Regions from separate parts of the Homo sapiens genome. Here all the other regions are reported to be linked to region 1. The links are microRNA targets in miRTarBase. Many come from high-throughput screens and were not tested one by one. Region 1 holds a microRNA gene; each other region holds the end of a gene's coding sequence.

Region 1 (4,151 bases):
GGAGCACAGGAGCCTGGGGATGTAGAGGGCCATCATGCTGCCTCCCATGGGCTCCTTCATGTCTGCACCCCCAAGTGGGTTGCAGGGATGCCTGACTGAAGGGGTGCACCACAGGTGTCCTCACACAAAGGGACGCCTGCTCGCAGAGCACTGGAAGGATGAGGGCTCAATGGCCTGGGAGGCCCAGGCTGGCTGTGGGACCCAGGCCCTGATGCCTCCACCAACCCCAAACCACCCCCACTGCCCCTGGCCCCATGGTGCAATCATGGCTGGCTTGGGTATGTATTGGGGATGTGCTGGGCTGGGCAGCCTGGACCCAGGCTCCCCCTAAAATCTAGACTAGAGAGGGGTGGGCGCTGAGCACTGCCCAGTGGAGGGGCCTGGGGGAGCTTCTAGGTGAGGCTCTAAGGCTACAGAGCCTAGGCAGGGGTTCTCAGGAGAGGGCCTGTGGCCAGTCTGAGGTGGGCTGGGCCACAGGTCCCAGGATGGACTCCAGGGAGCACTGCACCTGCCCAGGAGCCCCGCAGGTGAAGCAGCCTCCCAGGCCCTGTGTCTCCCAGGGACTGCCCTGGCCTGGGCTATGGCAAGTCCCGTATGTCTCCTGGAGACATCAGCTCCCGTCTGGGTGGCCAGGCGGACTCACGGGCATGGGCCAGCACAGGGTGTGGCAAGAGAGATCAGCTGGGAGAGGAGAATTGGGGACTGCAGGCCTTGGTGCCTGCTGACCTCCACCCCTCTGAAGAGAGCCTGGCTCAGGGCTTCTGGACTCAAAGGAGGGCAGGCAGGACTCCCCAGTTGTCCTGGGCCTGTGTGAAGGTCCCCCTGGAGCTCCTAGGGGTCACCAATGCATAGCCAGGCAGGTGGTGCACTGTGGCAGCTCCAGGGAGAAAGATGCACTGGACCATGAGGCCAGGCAGCAGGGCTGTGATCAGCAGGAGGGTAGGAGAACAGAGGGGCTCAGAGGTGGACGTCCTATGTGGTTGGCTTGCAGGATCCGGGGACACTTCTGACGCTAGGGGACATGCTGGGGCTGTGGACAAGGATCATGGAGTGGGCAGCCCTTGAAGGCATCTGAGACATGCTGATGACACGACGGGCGTTGGGGGCTGACAGTGCAAGGCAGCCATAGGCCTGTGGCCAGTTCTAGGGCAGCTGTCACGGACAGGCACAGATGTCCTGGCTGGGGTCCTGAGAAGCTCCCGAGAAAGGTTTCCATGGGCCTCAGAAGCCAGGCTGTGTCCCACAGCACAGATGCAGGCCCTGGGCATCTTACCCTCCTGGGTGACCCTGGAGGGGCCAATCACAGGTGGGGCCTGCAGAGACACTAAGGCTTCAAGGCCAGGGCCTCGCGGGCTGCATCCTCTGTATCCCCAGGGCTCCCTGGAGAGTCCTGCTTTCCCACTTCCAGGAGACACATCTGCTAGGCAGGTGTGGTGTTCTGGGCCAGGAGCCTCCCACTTGGCATGTGGTCCTGGGCTCTGGGCTCTTCACCTACAGGTCAAGCCTGGGACCTGTTGTCCATGGCCAGGACTGGCACAAATCTGATCCTTTTGTGGAGGTCAGCAGTCTGTCTTCCAGCTTTTCTGCCACCAGCTAATGCTTATCTGGTATGAGCTGTGCCCGGCATTTGCTGGGCTCTTTACACCCTGAGGAGACTGCTCTCACACCCCTGTTCTACAGGGGGAAACTGAGGCTCACTGGGGGTTTGTGGCATGCCCCCGGCCGCAGCAGCTTGAGTGTCTTAGTCAGGTTTACAACCCACTGGCTGGATCCACAGCTCAGGGAGCCTTTCTCCACAGTGACATAAACTGTGGGGTCACTCCCTCAGCTCATGGCTATGGACCTCACGGCCCCTAAGTGCTGGCTGAGGAAGTACGACCATCCCACCCCTCCATGAGGGTCCCTGCCTGGAAGCACAGGGAGCACAGATGCTTCCTGGGTGCAGCAGCCCTGAGCCATGCCCCACTCTCGGGCTCTGCATTAGTTAAGGTTTTCCCGAGAAACAGAAGTGATAGGATGCGTGTGTGTTTATTAAAGGAGATGGATGGCAAGGAATTGCTTCATGAGATAGTGGAGTCTGAGAAGTCCCCAGATCTGCTGCTGGCCAGCTGGAGCCCCAGGAGAGCTGATGGAGTTTGTCCCAGTCTGAAGGCCAGGGGCTTGACATGCATGAAGAGCCTGTACTTCGGTTCAGGTCTGAAGCCTGGAAAAGACCAAGCTCCCAGCTTAAGGCAGCCAGGCAGAATGAATTATCTCCTACTTGGCCTTTGTGTTCAGCTTAGGTCTGCGACAGGTTGGATGGGTCTACCCACACTGGGAGGCTGTCTGCTTTGCAGTCCATGGATTCAAGTGTTCATCTCACCCAGAGCCCCCCTGACACACACCCAGCATAATGTCTGGCCAAACATCCAGGCCCCCTGTGTGCCAGTCAAGCGGACGTGTGAAATTAACCAATGTGGGCTCTGAGATTCCAGGCCCAGGAGACCCACATCCTCCAGCTTCTGCTGATGTGCCCTGGGGTCCCTGGGGACAGGCTCTGGCTTGGTGCCTGGATGGGGTTGGGGCCACTCAGCAGCATGTCACCTGGGCACGTCCTTCACACCCCAAGCCACCCGCCTCCTCTGTAAGTGGGCTGTACTGCCTTAACTGATGACCCCTGCAGCTGCTCTGAAAACTGGTCCCAGTGGAAGTGACATGAAGACCACCTCCTCAGGTGTGTCCCTGTTAGCTAAGACCAGATGAGGATGCTGGGACTGGGCAGGGTCAGCTGACTGCCCAAGGTCCTGTGGCCAGTTAGAGGCACCGCTGGGATCTGAACCCATGTGGTCTAGCTCCAGAAGCCACGCTCCTACCCCCAGGCCATCCCACTGCCAGCTCCTCATGGCTGTTTCTGAAGGTGATGGAGGGACTCACCAGCCCAGGTTCCCAGGACTGTCTGGGCTTTGTGGCAGGAAACTGGGGCAGAGCAGGGGCCTCCGGGTGGGAAGGATGACCCTTTCCCAGCAAGACAGGACCTCGTCTCTTGCTAGAGCCCAGCTGGGGTTAGGTTTGGGATAGTGTGCTCAGGACATGTGATCAGAGGGAAGCTGGAAAGCTCTGAAGGGGGAAGGCTCCCCACACATGGATAATCCCTCATACAGAGACCCCAGACTCAGCATAGGATCCCAGACAGAATGGCCTTCACACGCTGCCTGGCTCCTTCCAAAATCAATACAGGCTCTTAAAATGCTGAAATAGTTCTGGTGCATGCTGAGATTTGTTGGACTGAGTTTAAAATCCTGGTGTGTGTGTGTGTGTGTGTGTGCGTGCGTGCGTGCACTGAGAGTGCTGGTGAGCTTGGAGAGGTTCCAGTCTTAAAAAGGACCCTGGCCCCGAGAGGCCACCTGACCACCAAGAACAGCCCGTGTAATTCTGGAAGGTGGATTTGGGATTCCTGCTTTCATGCCCTGAGGGCCCCTGAGGGCTCAGGACTGAGGGACAGAGGCTGCTGGGATGAAAAAGGTGCATCCCTGGCTGGGAAACTCCAGGCTTGGGTGGGCTTCTGCTGAGACCCAGCTCCATGCAGAGGTTCATACTGCCTGTGCCTCAGGGACCAGCATATCCACCTCCTGTCATCCAGTTGAGGCCTCAGGGCTCCCAGGGAAAGGAGCAGGGTCCCCCCAAGCCCAGGATACCAGGACCAGCCGGGCTCCAGCCCCACCCCTCCTTGTGCATTTCTGCCCTCCCAGGCTTCCCTGCGCCTTCATTACCAACCTTGTCCTCAGCAACCACGGCTTGTAAACCATATTCCACGTGCTTGGGTTTTCCCTCTGGACACACAGGCTCTGAGAAGATGGTTTAGGCAGTTCCCAACTTCACGATCACAGCAGGTCCTGCCAACCCACCCTGGACCGTCCCTAGCCTGGACCAGGGACACCCCACCCATGGGAGGATGGGTTGGAGCTGTCCTGGAGCTAGGCTGGACTGGGCCCTGCAGCCTCCAGGCAAATGCCTTTTCCTTTACAAAGCTGGTAAAGTGCTCTAGGTCACTCACCCTTGGAGGATCTCTCTGCTGCTTCATCATCTGGGAGTCGCTGTCTCCATTCCCAGGGATTCTCTGTGTCTTTAAGTCTAAGTTGGGGATTGGCCCGGCCACACCAACTTTCATCCCA
Region 2 (4,000 bases), not on the chromosome of region 1:
CCAGGAGAAGCTGAGTTTGGATCCTGGTAAACTTGCCAAGCCCCAGATGCAGCAGACACAGCCTCAGGCCTATGCTTACTCGGATGTGGACACCCCAGCCGGTGGCGAACCACTGCAGGCCGATGGCATGGCCATGATCCGTTCCTCTCTGGCTGCTTTGGACAACCACGGCGGTGACCCCCTGGGCAGTCGAGCATCTTCCACCACTTATAGGAACTCAGAGGGTCAGTTTTTCTCCAGCATGACTCTCTGGGGGCTAGCGATGAAGACGCTGCAGAATGAAAACGAGTTAGACCAGTGATGTACCGCGCTTCTCCACGGTAGAGGCGTGTTCTCAGTTTAGCAGGCTGGTGTTAAGGCTGTAGGAGGACCCAGTTTCCCCATGACAGTGCCTTCTAACTAGCCAGAGAATAGGTAGCTTCCCTCCTGATGATGGCTCATAATCTGAAGCATCTTGAGCTGGGGGTGTGAGGGGGAGGGCCTGCTGGCTCACCGTGAGGCAGCCGCGGGAGGGAGCGCTGACGTCACAGAAGCGAAGGCTTGATGCTGTCTCAGCAGCCTCAGCTGTGGGGGGGAAGCGCGTGTGCATCGTGTCAACTACTGTACATGTTGGTCATGTGAAAGGAATTATATATGTATAGTATTACAAGTATTTTTGCATTTTTACAAGATTGAAATTTGTAGCATTTTGTATTATTTACACAGAATTTATTTGTATATGAAACTCATACCATAATTTAATTCGAATAAATGAAACTTTTCTATATATTATATGTTTCCTCTAGCATTTTTATTAATCTAAAGACTATAGGGGTATAAAAATAAATAGCAGCGAGGACTCACTCTGCAAGGATAAGAACCTCATTGGTCAGTCTCCCTCCTGGTACAGCGGGTTTCTCAGTGGTCAGAACTGCCTGACTCCTGGCTGCCACTTACTGGCAAGGTCATGGGTGAGCTGTTCACCCTCTCAGGATCTTCTCTGGAGTTTCTTTTTTGCAGTATGAGAGGAACATCTTCCAGTATTTTCACAAGGCTTGTCTGATCTGAGCACTCACTTGAAAATACCTGCCCGGCGCCTGGCCCTTGACAGGGCGTTCTAAATATTTACTTCCCCTTCCCAGCGGGCTTGACAGCCTCTGCAGGAAGGAGATGTGCCCGTGGCTCTGTCGCTGGAATATCAAGGTGAGACTGGGGATGTGGCACGTCACAGGTGATCTGCTTATAGCACTGCCTGCACGGAAGACTGGAGAGCACCCTACACGGAGGACTGTGTGGAGAGCACCCTCGAATACTCGTGAGCAGCTCTAACTCAGAAGTACAAGATACTCAACGAGAGACCAGTGAGGAGGAGAGGATTTTCATAGAAAAACAGCACAGTTGCAGAGTAGGGCATCAGCTCTGAAGTCCATTACAGGTGCATTTCGTGTTTTCCCATCCATCAGCTGCACTACGCTTCTGCCAGGCTGGCTCAGCGAGCATCTGTTGTCCCCATTGCACACATGGAGTGAACTTGGAACACAATGGCCGCACGTGAGTGCAGATCTTCCTCCTTCCTCCCCATGTCCTCTCCTCTCATGGCCTCCTCTGGCTCCTCCCTCATCCCAACTCGTGTAGCTCTTCAGCCTCCCAGCACCTACAGTGCATCCATCCCCTTAGCTGTCCCTGTGGACCCTCCTTGGCCATGGTTCACCCACCAACCCCTTTATCCATTCCACCTGGTGAACCTCCAGCACTACACACAGGGAGCCCAGCCAGGCTGGTGAGAAACAGCCATTCTCTAGTTTCTACAGCTCTCCTGAGCCCCCGCCGTATCCTACAATCCCCTCTCCTTGATCCAGGCGACGTGCTGCCCTAGGCACTTGTGTCACATCTTCTCAGACCTCTGCAGCTCGCCTGTCCTCCTCCTTATGGCCTTGCTTCCTATTTCTCTCAGAACCTAGAAGCAAATAGGGGCCAGGCGTGGTGGCTCACACCTGTAATCTCAACACGTTGGGAGGCTGAGGCAGGTGGGTCACTTGAGGTCAGGAGTTCGAGACCAGCCTGGCCAACATGGTGAAACCTCATCTCTACTAAAAATACAAAAATTAGGTATACTGCCACATGCCTGTAGTCCCAGCTACTCAGGAGGCTGAGGCACGAGAATCGCTTGAACCTGGGAAGCGGAGGTTGCAGTGAGATCGCACCTCTGCACTCCAGCCTGGGCAACCGAGCAAGGCTGTCTCAAAAAAAAAAAAAAAAAAAAAGGAAAAGAAAAAAGAAACAAATAGGAAAGAACATTCCTCAAGCTCCCATAACACCTCCCTACCTCCCCACATCTGTGCCCGTGGACTCTGCACTTTCCCATCTAAAACCAACCTGCCCCCAACCCCTTGATTTCCCACCTCTGCTTTTTCTCACTAAGTCTTATTATCACCATCTGACCTACTATATAATCTTCCCCTATTACGATGTAACCTCTTCTTTTTTTTTTTTTAAATAGATACAGAGTCTCACTATGTTGCCCAGGCTGGTCTCAAACTCCTGAGCTCAAGTAATCCTCCCGCTTAGGCCTCCCAAAGTGCTAGGATTACGGGCATGAGCCACCGAGCCTGGCCAGGATATAAACTCTTTGTGTCTCTTTTGTTCACTGCTTTATCCTCAGTGCCCAGAACAGTGCCTGACCCTAAATGCTCAGTAACAAATAGTCAAATGAATGTCTTTGGAATACTTTTTAGTCAAAATACTGGACCTCCTAGATTGATTGATTTTTTTCTCCTGAACCTTGTTCATCAGACTCCACTGAAATACTTTTTGCCCAGGTGGCCCACGACCTCCCCATTGCTAAACCGAGTGAGAATTCTCAGTCCCCTTCCTAATGACTCTGAGGCAGGATATGACACGTCGGCAGCAAGTGCATTCCTTTTTTCTCCTTGAAACAACAACCAAGAGGACCACTCCTGCTAGGATTCCCCTTCATGCACGGGTGGCTCTGTCTTGGACTCCTTCCCCTACCCCAACACACATCTTAAAGTTGGGGTGCCCCAACTTTAAGAACACAGGCCCTGGACCTCCTCTCCGGCCTTGGCTCTGTCCCTAGGCCATCTCCTCAATGACAGAGCAGGAGCACTGTCATCTTGGACAAACAACTCCAAAAGTTCCAGCTCCCTTTCTAACCTCATGCGTTTCAAGGAAATGCAGCCAGGAAGAGCAGACAATGAAACACAGATAAGACAGCTTGAGCACAGAGGGAGGAGGGAAAGTCTCTTCGTAACCACCAAACTTCACCCTCATACAATGGGCCCCAGTAAAACAGTGGGCCCTAATAAGCACATTTCTTTCCCTTTAGGCATGCTGAGATAGGGAAGCTAAAAGCAAACTCGGGTGGTATGCCTGCAGCTGCAGGAAGATGTGTGGGAACAGATGCAAAAACTCTCCCTCCCAGATAAGCAAGACAAAGAGACACAGAAACATTCCGAGCCTGTGATAAGCTCTCCCACCCTGAACCCTTAAATACTCTTATTTTGTAAGAGAGAGGGCCTCTGACCTAAGTCGGCCAGAAGCCCCTCTCAGGTTTATTTTCCAAAATAACCTATCTTTGACTGTTGAGTGGCTTTTCATGTTTCTTTCCTCTTTATTTAACTCTTACACTCACATCTCATGACCTTAAATACTGTCTGCCCATGACTCCTCCCAAAACTCTGGATTCCTGTCCTGAGCTGCCTACCAGCGTCTTCACAGACACCCCAGACTAAGAGCTTTCAAGACCAAGCTCCTTGTCTTCTCAATTCATGGCCACCTTATTAAATGGCAATCCTGTTCCTCCAGGATTTTACTCAGACTAAAAACCTTAAGAGTTATCTTACTTCATCAGTATAAGTATGGAGGTGCCTCCTGTATGCCAGGTGCTGGATTTGCCAAAGGCTCAGAAAACAAGACCCCTAGGCCAAGTCACATTTTTGAATAAATCTGCTTGATGAGGACAATAATTTGCTCTTGTAGAATAAAACTTTAGGGAATAGCA
Region 3 (4,000 bases), not on the chromosome of region 1:
ATAAAAATGCTTTCATATAAATTTCATCTTAACTACCTTTAGAATGAAACGGAAAAGTAAAAACAAAGTGTGCATTTTCCTTACTACGTTTAGTCAGGAATATGCGGTCATTTTATTGGTTACTGGGTTTCTCATACAAACAGATATAATATCACTTTTAAGAGAAATGTACACAAGGAAGTAACCATAGTACCACTTATTAGTGGGGGCCTCTGGGTACATAAATGTGTCCTCCCAAATAGTCATCATACATTCAATGTATTGGTTAGGGCCAAAATCCCTAAACCACCTCTCAACAAAACATTACACCTTTGGTTCTTTATTATGCAAAAATTACAAATTGGCAAATTCAATAAGAGGATGCAATGGATTTGAGCATCACAGCCAATTGCTTATACTAAAATATTTTAATTCTCAGACTCTCTTTCCCTCATACCTTTCCCTTCCCCACCTCACATAAGAAAATGATGCTTAAAACAAAACAGAGGAAGCAAATAAACAAACAAAAAAACCTATCCCCAAAGGCAGGCAGAAGAGGAGTCAAAGAAAGAAAGCATTTATAACAATAAAAATAAACCAAAAATAGCAGGGGAGGATCTATACATGGCATAAAAGATGTGTCTCATAAAAACTGAGTCTCCAATTCAGAACCCAAATGAGAAAGTGATTATCCATCTTACCTTCCCTTTTATTAGATACCACACAATTCAAGAGTTCTTAAAATCTAAGAGATCAGTAAAAAGTTTGAAAGGCAGTGTTGTCCTCCTCATCACTGAAACCTGTTGTCTGTAATGACAGCTTTCACATTCCCTTTCTCCAAACCCAAAGGATCCAAATTAAAGTAGTCCAAGAAAAAGAAACAAGCAATTTGGTCTGACATTGTGCTTAAGGAAAAGGGAGGATATAAAATATCCAGTGGCTGGATCAGTAGCTGATACTTTCAGAAGTGGGGCTGGAGCAGGAGGGCAGAAAGGGGCAGGTACGCTGTGGTCCACAGAGGTCCATGCAGATAGGTTCTCCCCATCTGTGAATAATAAATGGGTCCAAGGGCAGAGAGTCACCATTTAGAATGATAAAATGTTTGCACACTATGAAAGAGGCTGACAGAATGTTGCCACATGGAGAGAATAAAGCAGAGAATGAACAAACTTAATCTGCTTATCTCAGGGCAGAAGTAATTATTTTTGTTGGTTCAATAAATTTGGATAGGACTGAAAAAACCATTTGTAAACTATTATGCCAACAGACACGCAGGGTTTCCATATGGGGCCACCGACAGACAAATCAGGTAAGTGGGAAGCACTGATGCATACTTGCAGCCATAGAAGGAATGAGAACTGTCATTCAAACCAAAAGAGTCGGGAATTCACCTGTTAATATCTACAAAATGCCCAGGCAGAACTTATTTTGCAGGTGTCATGGGCATCACAGCACTGGACGGAAGTTGCAGTGTAGCCATGGACCAATTATTAACTGGCCCAAGGAGAAGAGGAAGAAAACTATTCTTTATCTACAATTAACTAAAATGCTTCTGCCCTTAAAAGAAAGTCAAAGAAATTGCCAAGAGCATGAATACAGAGAGTGGATTCAGGTGAGGGGCAATCAGTCTGAACAATGAGCAAGTCTATAGTTGTCCATTATCATCTAAAAGGTGACTCTAGGAAAGGAAAATGTTCTGTTGAGTTTCTACGTTAGTTGCCAAAGGGAATGTCATGGCCGCTTCAGAGGAAAAGAAATGGTAGCAGAAAATAGCAAAGGCTGCTATATAGTTCCTCCTTTTCCAACCTTCTTATAGGGCTGTTTTGGATCATAGAAAACAAGTCCAACTTTCCAATTCCTGCACTTGAACATATAAAGTCCATGTCTTCAGTGAGAACATACTGGGTATACCAGTAACACGGACCACACGGTGTGAAAGAAAGATTGGTGAGCAGGCCTTTAAGCAGCAAGATAATCAGTAGAGACTGATCATCTGACAAACGGAAGACAACTGTCACTGGGTCCCTTGGGCTAAGGAAAGTTCAGTCCTAAATGGCAAGGGTACAACATTTGAGACAGTGTCTTCTGTGGATATGAAAGGAAAGGCTCAACAGTTAAGACTAGTTTCATATGCTGGGTGAGTGAGTGAAACAGGCCTAGAATGCTCAGATCTGGGACAAATGTGTTCCATACAGGCAGTCAATGGAATGCTTGGCAGGAAGTAGGGGGACCTGTGGGTGGGTAACTGGCTCTTGCACGAGTTAACTTGTCTCTTGGTCATTCCAACATTCCAAACCTTTTTCTGGTTTTAAAAAAGTGGGGAGGGTCATAGTAACTAGACTATCAAGGATAAAACTTTACACTGACCAGGCCCATACACAGAAAAACAACAAACTCACACCCTTCTTCCTGGTAAAGTTTATATGAAGACCTGCACACAGACAAGAAAAATTAAGGTGCAGCCTCTTGAAGGGATCTCCTGCCCCCAAAATTTGTTGAAGAAAAGTATTCTTCTCCCCTTCTCTCTCCAGGAATGATATATGCAGGAGAACACAATACAGTATGTCCATTTTCCAAAGAAACAACATACTTGAAAGGTTTGTGCTGAGAACCATACCAAAGTAAACCTTGTGAGACTCCAAGGGATACCGGGAAGACAGGAGGGGAAAGGAGACCAAAGTTGCTTTCATGGGCCAGAATGATCAAAAGCACAAAGGTCTTGCCCTATAACATGCTGGTAGGGCTACAATCACGGAGAGGTGCAAAACCAAAAGCACCAAATGAAGACAAAAGAATGTCCAAGGAGGAGGAGATGCGTAGGTCAATTCAGGCAGAATTCCAGGGCATAATTCCCAACAGGACGCTAGTGTAGAATCTTCTCATGGATATGGCAGAAGCCTGCAGGGCTTAAAATGCAGTCCAAGCTGCAAGAATGTCTGGGCTTCAATAAGCATCCATCTTATTCTCCAAATAGAAGAGAGTAAACATGGACCCAAGGCTTGTATTCATCTTGCATTTCCACAAACTTGTCTTATTAGATTAGAATAATCAATAAGCCTTGCAGATACCCAGTGAAACTGACGAATTGCTTCTCTTGCATTATCTGAATAAGAACATCTTCTCTTTCCTACCTCTAGAAGCTGGCTCCAGAGATTTCTTCATTTCTCTCCCGGATGACCTTCATTTGTTCCTCAGCAGCATTTACAAAAGTCAGTTATGTCTCTACACTGGAGGTGGACTCTCTCACGCATAAACCTGCATGTTGTTGTGTGGTGGCTCAGACATGTGTGTCCCAGGTCCCCGCTGACCTCCTCCAGCACCCCCAGGGGTAGGGCTGGTGGTCACATCTGACCAGTCAGAAGCAGAGTGGGGTGATGAACTTGACCACTGGTCAGGAGACTCTGGGGATGGTGTCAGGTAGGGATGCTCACCCTGGAGGTGACCACTGTGACTGGGTGTTCGCTCAGCAGCATTTGAGGAAGCATAACTGTGCTGTGAAGGGGGTGTGGGGTACTTGCCCACAGAGGCTGGGAAAGGATGATAGGCTGGGAGAATGGTCTGAGCTACCTGCCCGTCCTGCTGGGGCATCATGGCAGTGGGGAAAGCCACACTGGGCAAACGGGCCATTTCTGGAATCTGGTACATGGTGGGCAGGGGGCCCGCAACAGCTGGAGGGCAGGTGGACTGAGGCTGGGGAGCCCCCGCTGGTTGGGCAATACTGCCTTTAGGGATGAGCTGGAAAGTCACAATGGGGGGCAAGGGCTCCCGAGGGGTGGTTATGTGCTTCCCTTCAGGTGGCCTGCTCTGGGGAGCTATGCCAGGATGGGTGCCCTCAGCTGGAGCCAGGACCATACCAAACATCTCATTGTACTGGGTCTCATTCACCTCCATGCGGTTCATCCAATCTGCTGGGACTGGGACTGGATGGAGCCTACTCAAGCTTCCAGCACTGCCACTGCCTGGAGACACAATGTGGTGGTGGGATAGCAACTGGCTCACTGAGGGAAGCACAGTGCTGGCC
Region 4 (4,000 bases), not on the chromosome of region 1:
AAGAATAACAGTTGATTACTGAAACTTAACTGGGATGTACTTCTGTGTGTGAAAAGGAAAACCTCTTCTGACTGTATTTTGGAGATTTGTCAGGTATGATACAGTTCCTACTTTTGATTGCAATTCTTGATCTGGGTAGCATGAGAGAAGGAGATACTCAGGTTAGAGAGGATGAAAGAATAGAACAGCTTTCTAGTAATTTGTGCCTAATATTTTCCTTTAACGCTTTTGAAGTTTTGAATATGTAGGATCCTCAGAGTTTCGAAAATTTACTATCTCCTGTTTTTCCACATTAACTCTTACCAACACTCTGCACTCTTTTTTTTTTTTCCTTTTGTCTAGGGAATGGGACTTTGATCTGAAGAAATTACCAAACATTAAAATGAGAAAAATTTGCGCTAATGATGCAATTCCCAAGACGTGCAAGAGGAAAACTATTATAACTGTAGACCAAGATTTGGGGGAATTGGAACTAAACGATGAATCAAGTGATTCAGATGAGGAAATGACTGCAGTGGCCTAATTGTCTTCACTTGAATTGAAAATAAATAATTTGAGAGCTTCAAATTATATTCATTGATTATGGTACCTAATTGTCATGATACAAAAATTTGATACTGACATTCTCTTATATGATGAGAGTTTCATTTGCGTTTCAAAAATGGTGTTATGATACTTATTTTAAAATGAAGATTGCTTTTCATTTCCATTAAGTTGCTAAAATAGATAGATGTGATCTGCAGAAGTTGTTTAGTCTTCATCTGAATTTCAGGCTGGGAGGGAGCAATATAACTAAGGACAAAAAATGTTTTGTTTTTCTTGTGTATTTATGATCACCTAATTTCACGTTTTGTGAAATGGACAGTAACCTGTTTCCTGAAAGATTCCTGTGGGTACTTTTTGAGCTGTGATAATAGCAAAATTGTTTTTCGGTAATAATATCACACTAATGCTTCTTTTAAACATTAAACCTATTTTCCTTTTTTACAGAATAAGGGAAAATGTGATAAGAAGTTTGTATACATTTCTGGATTATAGATTATTATTTATCTTTTGAACCAGAGCTAAATGGTAAAAGAAAAAAAATCAGTGATGATTGTTATGTTGATCTCCCACAATTAATTTATCTTTTGACAAAGGGGATAAAGAGTTTCAGTTTAGCTCCTTTTGATTGTATATTATTTTTTGCTTTTTTATTGTGAAAAGAGGTAGGTTTTATTTGTGGAGAGAGAGTTGAAGATTAGGGAACCAGTGATTTTAATTATGCTACTTTTTCTTCTAAGAGATAAATTGATATATCATTCAGTGTCATGAAAAACATGAATGTTGTACAATTTTCTTCCTCAAAAAACTTTTTAAATGTAAGTATCCTTATTTTTTTTTTAAAAGAGCACAATGTAGGTGTATTTGAGTATTTTCAAGAAAAGAATAAAAACATTAATGCAGTATTAGGTTAACTGGATATCAACTAAGCCTTGTTAACAGTTAAAGTATTATAACTTTTTTTACTTCTGAAAATTAAAAATAAAATTTATTTCTGCAATTTCATTTCTTACAGTCCTAATTTTTTTTTTTTTTTAGTGATGTAACATGTTGATTAGTTAGTAATCTGTGTAAAAGTGTGGTTTTAGGATTCCATGAGTAGTTAATGTCTGAAAGTTTCCTTCTCTCTCCCTTTTGGCTCGTAGTCTTAAAATGGTTGTAAAAACTGAGTCATAAATTGCATTAAAGAGAATAAGAACTGCTTTATCTGGACTGACACTTAAAAGCCCCTACTGTTAGATGAATAACTTGTGAAAAGTGACAGATTGTCCTCCTTCTTAAACATTTGTTTCTAGTTTCCCATGTGTTGTCAAAGCAAAGATTACAACTAACAAGCTACACTGCCGGGAAACTAGGTAAGTATTTGCTGAATGAATGCATATAACATTTAGGACCATAATAATCATGTCACTCCTAGTTGGATCAAAGCAGCCTCAGAGATAACTTGTCTTTAGAGTGATGCTTAAGATGTTCTTACTCCTTGCCTGTTGAACATGTTCTTTCTGGGGTGATAACTTGTGCTCCCTTCATCTAGACCACTTTTAAGTCAGTGGCATATTTTTGTAAGACAACGTCTATAGTTCATGGCCATGGAACAAAGTAAAGGTAACTTATTTTTGTAAACTAGGGACTGGCAAACTTTTTCTTTATAAAAGGCCAGAAAGTAAATATTAATATATTAGGCATTATAGGCCAAATGTAGTTTCTGTTGCATATTCGTGTGCATATGTGTGTTGTTTGCCGCCCTCTAAAAATATAAAAACCGGCTGGGTGCGGTGGCTCACGCCTCTAATCCCAGCACTTTGGGAGGCTGAGGCAGGTGGATCACTTGAGGTCAGGAGTTCGAGACCAGCCTAGCCAACATGGTGAAACCCCATCTCTACTAAAAATACAAAAATTTGCCAGGTGATTACATGCCTGTAATCCCAGCTACTGGGGTGGCTGAGGCAGGAGAATTGCTTGAACCCGGGAGTCAGAGGCTGCAGTGAGCTAAGATTGTGCCACTGCATTCCAACCTGGGTGACAGAGTGAGACCCTGTCTCAAAAAATAAATAAGTAAAATAATAATATAAAAACCATTCTTAGTTAACGGCCATACAAAATAGGCCAGGGGATTGACTTGCTTGTCATAATTGGCTGACCCCTTGTCTAAACCAATGAGCTGAACTTCCATGGACATAATGATACATTTCTAAGTTCAGAGCAGCTGACTCACATCTGTGGTCTTTTCCTCTAATATCCTAGTTGCTTCCTTGCCGTAATTACTGACAGAGGTGTCCCTTCAGGACCTTGCTTACCTCAAATAGAAGCTTTTTTCTATTCTTACTTTCTGTGTGCTTCAGGGGCAGGAGATTGGGTAGGTGTCCTTTTTGCTTTACTGCCACTTCAGACTTTCTCCCTTAGGTCTTTGAAGTTCTATTCTTGCCTTCTTTCCTTACTATCTTACCTCCCAGAAGAACCTTCTGCCCATTCATAGAATACTTTAGCTCGTGGCCTAGTTTTCTTCTCCCCTGCAGCAATCATTTTAGTGATTCCTTGTGGATAACAAATAGTGGCTAGCAAATATAACAACAGTATGAGTTTTAAGTTTTCCAGTCTTTTTCTCTGTCCCATCAGAGGCCTCTCAGTGGTCACACCTGGATCCTTATCAGCACCTCCACTCTGTAGACCTGATTTTGAGTATTCCACTCTCCATTCACTGTCACCACTCCTCTTCATTGCTGAAGTTCTGCACTTTGACCTCACTCTCATTACGCATCATCTGTCTTGTTGAGCTTAGCTTCAAGTTCATAGTTGCTTCCTTGCATATACCCTGAATTCCTTGTCTCTGACTCTAGTTATTTCTCTTTCAGAACCCAAACCAAGTAACAGCTATGTTTCCTTCATGCCTGTTCTCACGCAGCTCAACATCGCTGGAGAATATCAAACAGACCATTTTCATACTGATGTTTGCAAATCTCAAGTGGATTCTCAGTACTGCTTAGTGATCTTATTATGTTCCCCTACTAAGTTCATTTTCTAACTTTGAGATAATTATTTTACTACTTTTTTATATTTTTTTCTAGCTTGACTTGAATACTAGCCTTCTCAATGTTCAGCCCTTGGCTTTTTATACATCTTTGAGAAAATACAAATTACCACTTTCTTTTGATTTAATGGATATATCTTTTTTTTTCCTTTCAAAGGAAAATACTACTTATGTTCTGTTTCCCACTCCTTATTTTCTCAGAAACCTGATTTTTCTAAGTTTTTCACGCAATTTCTCAAGCCAGGAATCTGCCTGTAAAATCATCCTTGATTTTTCACTTTCTCTCTTCTATGCCTTCCCACAATATAATTTAATTAGCGAGTATTTCTGATTCCACTTCCAAAATGAAAATCAAATTGGCCCGTGTCAGGCAGTCTCACTTTTCATCCTTACCAAAGTCGCCATGTCTTGCCTGTCCTATGTGCAGTA

Evidence for each region. Region 1 holds the annotated microRNA hsa-miR-5100 (UUCAGAUCCCAGCGGUGCCUCU, at 2,796-2,817, opposite strand). A microRNA usually pairs through its seed, bases 2 to 8, with sites in the 3' UTR of a target mRNA and lowers its output. Matches are read on the target gene's strand: a 7mer-m8 pairs with bases 2 to 8, a 7mer-A1 pairs with bases 2 to 7 and ends in A, and an 8mer does both.
Region 2: miRTarBase lists ZBTB49 as a target of hsa-miR-5100. Seed matches in the 3' UTR shown: 7mer-A1 at 443-449.
Region 3: miRTarBase lists NOTCH2 as a target of hsa-miR-5100. Seed matches in the 3' UTR shown: 7mer-m8 at 2,145-2,151.
Region 4: miRTarBase lists TMA16 as a target of hsa-miR-5100. Seed matches in the 3' UTR shown: 7mer-A1 at 760-766.

Annotation. Positions count from the first base shown.
Region 1 is chr10:42,996,296-43,000,446 of GRCh38, reverse strand. It overlaps MIR5100 (microRNA 5100), which reads right to left and starts at 2,884; the gene lies at 2,766-2,884. RefSeq lists an enhancer at 2,517-3,017.
Region 2 is chr4:4,321,016-4,325,015 of GRCh38, forward strand. It overlaps ZBTB49 (zinc finger and BTB domain containing 49), which reads left to right. Exons shown (of 8, transcript NM_145291.4): 8 at 1-768. The coding sequence ends at 301. Among named protein-coding and RNA genes, the nearest start is that of ZBTB49, 33 kb to the left of the region's middle.
Region 3 is chr1:119,912,084-119,916,083 of GRCh38, forward strand. It overlaps NOTCH2 (notch receptor 2), which reads right to left. Exons shown (of 34, transcript NM_024408.4): 34 at 1-4,000. The coding sequence ends at 3,223. Among named protein-coding and RNA genes, the nearest start is that of ADAM30, 18 kb to the left of the region's middle.
Region 4 is chr4:163,518,992-163,522,991 of GRCh38, forward strand. TMA16 (translation machinery associated 16 homolog) reads left to right here. Exons shown (of 7, transcript NM_018352.3): 7 at 343-1,548. The coding sequence ends at 523. Among named protein-coding and RNA genes, the nearest start is that of TMA16, 26 kb to the left of the region's middle.